Linked DNA regions of Homo sapiens. The protein of the gene in region 1 purifies or fractionates together with the protein of each later gene. This does not show direct contact. Each region holds a gene or a part of one and is shown in the gene's direction. Other genes may lie near its edges.

Region 1 (2,788 bases):
GCCCACAGGCTGTAGTCACAGAAAGCTGAGGAGGGAGGGAGCGCCACCCCTGGGGGAGAGAAAGAATCAAGGGTGATGAAAAGCAGAGCGCCTGCTCCCTGAGATTGCTTGCTGGCCAAGGTGGTTTGAGGGGCTGTTTTATTTTTTTTCTGGCCCCCTTGCCAAACCGCCCATGCCCCCCTCCCCAACGCATGATGGATGCCCTTAGTGGCCCTGTGTGAGGTTCTGCTTCTGTTCACAGTGTATCATGTGTCTGCATAAACAACCGTGTGTGTGTATGTGTGTATGTGTGTGCGTGCGTGTGTGTGTGCGTGTGTGTGTGTTGATGTGCCCATGTTTGTCTGCTGGCTTCCTCCATCCTTTGAGTTCTTTTCAGTTCTCTTATGATTTGACTGCTGTTCTCTCATCAGAGCTTCTAGATTGATGCTGTGGTCTGGTGCTGTATAAATATATTTTCTTTTTAATTTTGTTTTAACTTCTTCCTTGCCCTCCTTCACCCAAATCCCAGCCCTCCCTGCCCTCCCACACTCCCCAACCCCACCTGCCCTGCCCCACCTCTTCCTTCCCCCACCCACACTCTCTTGTCCTCTCTCTCTCTCTCTCTACATATATAAATATATATATAAATCTTTTCTTCTTTTGTCATTCAATCAAATTCCAACAACCCAACCAGGGCCAGTCAAATCCACCACAGTCTCGCGCTGAGCTAGGAATAAAGTTCACGTAATCACATGAGAGTGGAGAAAAGTCCCCCATCCGTAAGTTCAAATCAACTCAAAGTTCACAGTGTGACATGATGGCGTCATGTAACAAGGCTAAGAATCGGTTGCATGACAATTGCCGTCAAGTTTCGTGGAGGTGCTGTGATTGGAGCGTTTTTCTTGGATGTTGTATCAGTTGATGATTGGCCAGTCATGATCACACGTGCATTTTCTTGACTTTTGTGCTGCCACAATCTTTTTTGCTGTGCTCATTTTCGTTTCGTTCTTGGTGCTTGCAGTGGTTTTACTTTCTGTTGTTTGGTTTTTCTTGTTCAGCGTTTTTTTATGCTTCTCTAGATGTCACATAGAGAAAAAAACAAAACAAAAGAACAAAAAATAGTCAAAATAAAGATGAATTCCTGAATTATCAAACATGGGATCATTTACCTGTGCAAACCATTATTTTTTTCTTAAAAATAAGGAAAACATCTTAAAAATATCTATGCGTGGTTGATTTACTTGCACTTGAAAATATTGTGATTTTATTTTTTTCTAGAAATTTGGGGGCCTTTTTCAATTGACACTTTCCTAGGTCTGGTCTTTTTCCAGTTAGGCTATTTTCAATCTCACTTCAAAGGGAAAAAAAACAAAAACAAAAAAACAAAAACAAAATATCTACAGTAACAGAATGATAAAAAAATTCTAAACCAAAAAACTAGAGTACAAAGCCAGAGGCCTCTGCAAGAGAGCCCGGTAACAATTGTAAGGTTTGTATTGTAACCACTTCTGCTAAATTAAATGTGGGGAGGGGAGGCTGGGGACTGGGGGCTCGGGAGGGTTTTTTTTGGTTGGTTTGGAAGAAACAGTACTAACAAAAGCAAAATGCACCTTTTTGTTTACAACTGAAAAAGGGTCCTTGACAAGTGTTTTTTAATTTTATTATTATTTTATTTGGTGTTGTAATTGTTTAGACTGCTGTGTACGGTTTGCTGTTTGTTGAATCAACAGTGTGAAAAACCTGCCAGCATGGATTGATATACGCATGACGTTGTCCCCTCAAGTGGGGGCTTTGCAGTTCTAACTTTCTTGATGTAACCAGTCACCCCCATGTATAAGTGGAAGCTGCTTGCTAGAATGGAGATGAGTCTCATTTGTTAATTCACAATGATTAAGCATTCGCCTTCTGATTCTAGTCAGATCATGATTTTTTTAAAGCAAAACAAAACACCAAAAAGCCACCATTCAAAACAAAATCAAGCACTGTCTGAGTTAATTTATTTAAGTTTGATAATTAAATCTCTTCTGACCTTTTTTAGGTTTTCCCATCCACTCCCTTGAAGTTCTGAATTCCTCTAAATTCCCTGGCATGTATGAGAAAAGTATTATGTGTGTGTATGTGTGTATATATGCATATACATACACACATATCCATGTATATCCACATATGTGCAGGTGAATATATTCTACACATATATCCAGATATACATATATATACACAGCCTCGCAAATAGTTACTGACCCCGGGAAAGAAGTGGTTGGCTGGAAGCTGGGCAAGGATTCTACAAAATTTGAGTCACGGATGTGTCTTCCTTCTTTCCCTTGAGCTGGGAGGAGTGGGCTGGGCTGCTAGATTTTTCCTATCTTGTTTGCTAGGCTTCTGTATACATATTGTATCTGGGCTAGATCCCTCAGAGACAAGTTTAATTATGAATTCATATCCCGCAGTCCCAAATTCTCCCCTTAGATGTAGCTACCCCCAATCCAGAATGCTAAAGTAACCCAAATCAAGAACCTTCTCCCAACAACGAAACCTCAGCTACAACCATCACCACTAGACCTCCCAGTGGTTTCTACTCTGAATAGAAGAGTATATTTCTTTTTAATGTATCATGATCATGACTAATTCTCATACTGGTCTCTCTTCCTTCCCTCCCACCATCCCCTAGAGCTCCCATCCTAGCCCCTGAGGCAGGTTCCTATTGGTGTTTGGATGCTGTTTGTGTTTTCCCTCTTGGCTTAATCAGCCCTGATTTTCTTCATTTTAGGGCAGGATGCTGAACGGGCTACATTAAAAAACAAACCTCTCT
Region 2 (2,992 bases), on another chromosome or scaffold:
TCCCCTCTCCCCTCCATTTTATGTTTTCTTCTGGACATCCTGGCCTTCCCTGCCCTGCAGAGCATACCTGGATGTCCAGGCAAGACTGGGCGAAGTTTCTGAGTGGCCCTTTGTTTAGGTGATGTCCTCAGACCTGGACCCCCACCAGCCTCACTCCCCATCCCAACCAGAGATGGCTCACTTCGGATCGAGGGTTGACTACATCTCATCATCTCACGAATCTGCTGTAATATAAGACAACAGCTTTTAAATGTGTATATAACCCATGATTTCGGTTTTGTTTTGTTTTGTTTTTCTTGATGGTTTCCCTCTCCCTCCCTCTCTTCCCATTCTCCTTTTAAATCTCTTTGAATCACATTTGGTAGTGATTTTGACTTAGTCCAGTAGTCACATAGCTTTAATATCTAGTTCAAAGCTAACCATAGTATAATTGTTATATTAAGGAGTTATTTTTTCTTAAAACATTTTTTTTTGCTTGTTTTGGTTCTGTTCTCACTTTTAAAGGATGCTGAGATGGTAATATGACTCTCCATATTTTGGTACCAATTCTGAGACTGTATGAATTTTCAGGTGGAACTTTAGCACACACTGAAGCAAAGTTGTGAAGTGCAGGGCGGGAGGTGGGCGTGAGCTTTCTATTTTGCGTTGTAGAAGAAGTGAGATGTAGTAAGCTAATTAACAGACTTTCTAGCAGTTCTTTTTGTGATGTCTCTTTGTTAATCTGAGTCTATCTATTTTCGGCAATAAGGTAAGGACGACAGTGTTTTGAGTGTCCTCCTTTTCTATAAGTGCTTTTTTTCTGTTGAAAGAGGTGATATTATAAGGTTTTTTGAAATTGTGAATTCTAAAAAAGAAATGTTGTAAATACAATTCCATTAACTACATAGAAACTATTAAGAAAGAGAGAATCAAAAATATTTTTGTGAGGGAGTCGGTCCCAGGCAGTTTGATGCTCTGTGGAAGGAGGCGGGAAGGGAACGTTGGCCAAGTCAGTTACTGAGATGAAGATCGCCCAGCTGCCAGGACCACCCCAGGACAAGTTAGAGCACTGTTTAGCTCCTTTGTCTGTGTGATAGACCTAAGAACTGTATTAGTGTTGTACCAGCCTATTAACCTCTTGTCTGTGCACAGCTTCAAATGTTACCGTCTAGTTAGATTTTTATTTAAAATATGAAAAACTGCTTTTCCCAAGATGTTTTTTAAAAACAAAGCTACAATTTTAATATTTAACATATTTAAAGTTTCAAAGCACACCTGTTTGGCTTGGGTGGGGGTGGGGTGGGGGGGACATTCTTTTTCAGTCTTAATTTTTAAATATTTGATCATTTTCTATTGTCCAATCATTTCAGCACCTCCAAAGGTCCCTAGGACACTTTGCCTCTCTTCTCCCCCTGCCCCCCACCCTGCTCCCACATCTGGGGGCCCATGGGCCAGGAGTGGATAAGCCTGCATTAATACAACCTTTCTCCATTCACTTTCTATTTACAAATTAGGAAAGCAACCTTTTGGTTTATATATATTTTTTTTAATACCTCAGTGCTGCAAGTATCACCAGAGAGGCTATGGAAGAATTTTTTTTTAATTTATTGTAGATGTAAACAGAATTTTAAAAATAAAAAGTATAAACATCACTGCACTGTGACTGGTGGGAAAAACTGACAGTTTCCTCTTTGCACATGTTTAACATTTGGCTGTTATAATATATGGTCCTCGGTTGGGGAAAGATACTTATGATGAAGGATATTTTTTAATTTAACTTTTTTTTAAATATTGGTAATAGGTCGGCAACAGCAACTATAGAAGTACAACTCAATAGATGGCATTAAAACATATTGTAGTGTGGATATATATTTTTTCTTTTTTAAAATGTGATATTGACGTTTTATTAATATTTTTTAAATTGTTACGTTTATAAATTTGGTACTTAAGGCACAGCCAGTATGAGACACTGAATGCGACATTTATTATAAAGAGCTGCTGCACTCCTATTTTTATAAATTTTACTAACAAAGTAGACTAATGTAGACATTCACAGACATGGTAGGGCAAAAGCATCTTCAAACTAAAGACTCCAAAATGCTAACTCAGAAAGAAAGAAAAAACCCGTTTTCAATTCTAATGAAACAGCAACAACATTTTTTTTAATTAAAAAAAAAATCATGTTCTTTGTTTTTCTAATAAAATGTTAGGTTGTTTGGTGAGGTTTTTTTGTTGTTTTTTTCCTTTCTTTGTTTCTTTTCTTTTCCCCCAAACAACCAGATTAAATGCTGAGCGCTTTTAAAATATCAAAACTTGTTCAAGTCATAAAACAACAAAACATAAGTTTTATTTAAAAAAAAAAAAAGAAAGAAAAAATAGTAAATTCCCAGAAATTCAGTGTTTAGACGAGGGAATTTAATTCCTATTTTGTCCATGTTGGTGATGTACTGTACTTCCCTTCCTTTTCTCTGCATCCCCCATCACCTCATAGAAGACTCTTTGTTGATCATTGTATGTTAATAATGTATAAAATGGCTATCTTGTAAGCGTGCTGTCCTGGTACTAGTGTAGCGACTTTTTTTCTCCTCTTTCTTCTAGTACATATTGATAGGTATAACATAATTAAGGTTTAAAAAAAATTAGACATAGTTATTCAGATTTAGGACCAGTAAGGATAGAACTTTCTCTTATTTATGAAAAAAAATGCTAATAATTTTGGGGCAGTTTTTTCCTTTAATTATTTTTTTCAATTTCAAGTTTAATTTTATTTTAGCTGATCTGATGTGGTTTCAACTAACCCAAGGTCTCACCATGTTAAAATGCCGGCGGACTCTACGGCGTTTTGTAGATCCCCCCCCCCCCACCCACTGTGAAGGGGTGCCATACTACCTTAAATGCTAATGCTAGATATGCAAAACTGGATTTTTTTAATTTATTTTTTAAAAGAGGGAGGCATGGTATATTAAAATGATTTTACTAAGAGAAAAAATATTTTTTTAAGAATGCTCAGAAG

The links. The genes of interacting proteins can lie anywhere in the genome.
Region 2: the proteins of CELF4 (region 1) and MSI2 purify together in Homo sapiens (affinity purification with mass spectrometry, with the first as the bait; one large-scale study listed by BioGRID). This does not show direct contact.

What each region holds. Positions count from the first base shown.
Region 1 is NC_000018.10:37,245,156-37,247,943, reverse strand, and holds part of CELF4 (CUGBP Elav-like family member 4), read left to right. Parts: intron 1-673; coding exon of another isoform or gene 674-727; exon of another isoform or gene 728-2,746; coding exon of another isoform or gene 2,747-2,773; 3' UTR 2,774-2,788. UniProt on the Homo sapiens protein: RNA-binding protein implicated in the regulation of pre-mRNA alternative splicing. Mediates exon inclusion and/or exclusion in pre-mRNA that are subject to tissue-specific and developmentally regulated alternative splicing.
Region 2 is NC_000017.11:57,679,489-57,682,480, forward strand, and holds part of MSI2 (RNA-binding protein Musashi homolog 2), read left to right. Parts: intron 1-60; coding exon of another isoform or gene 61-102; 3' UTR 103-2,992.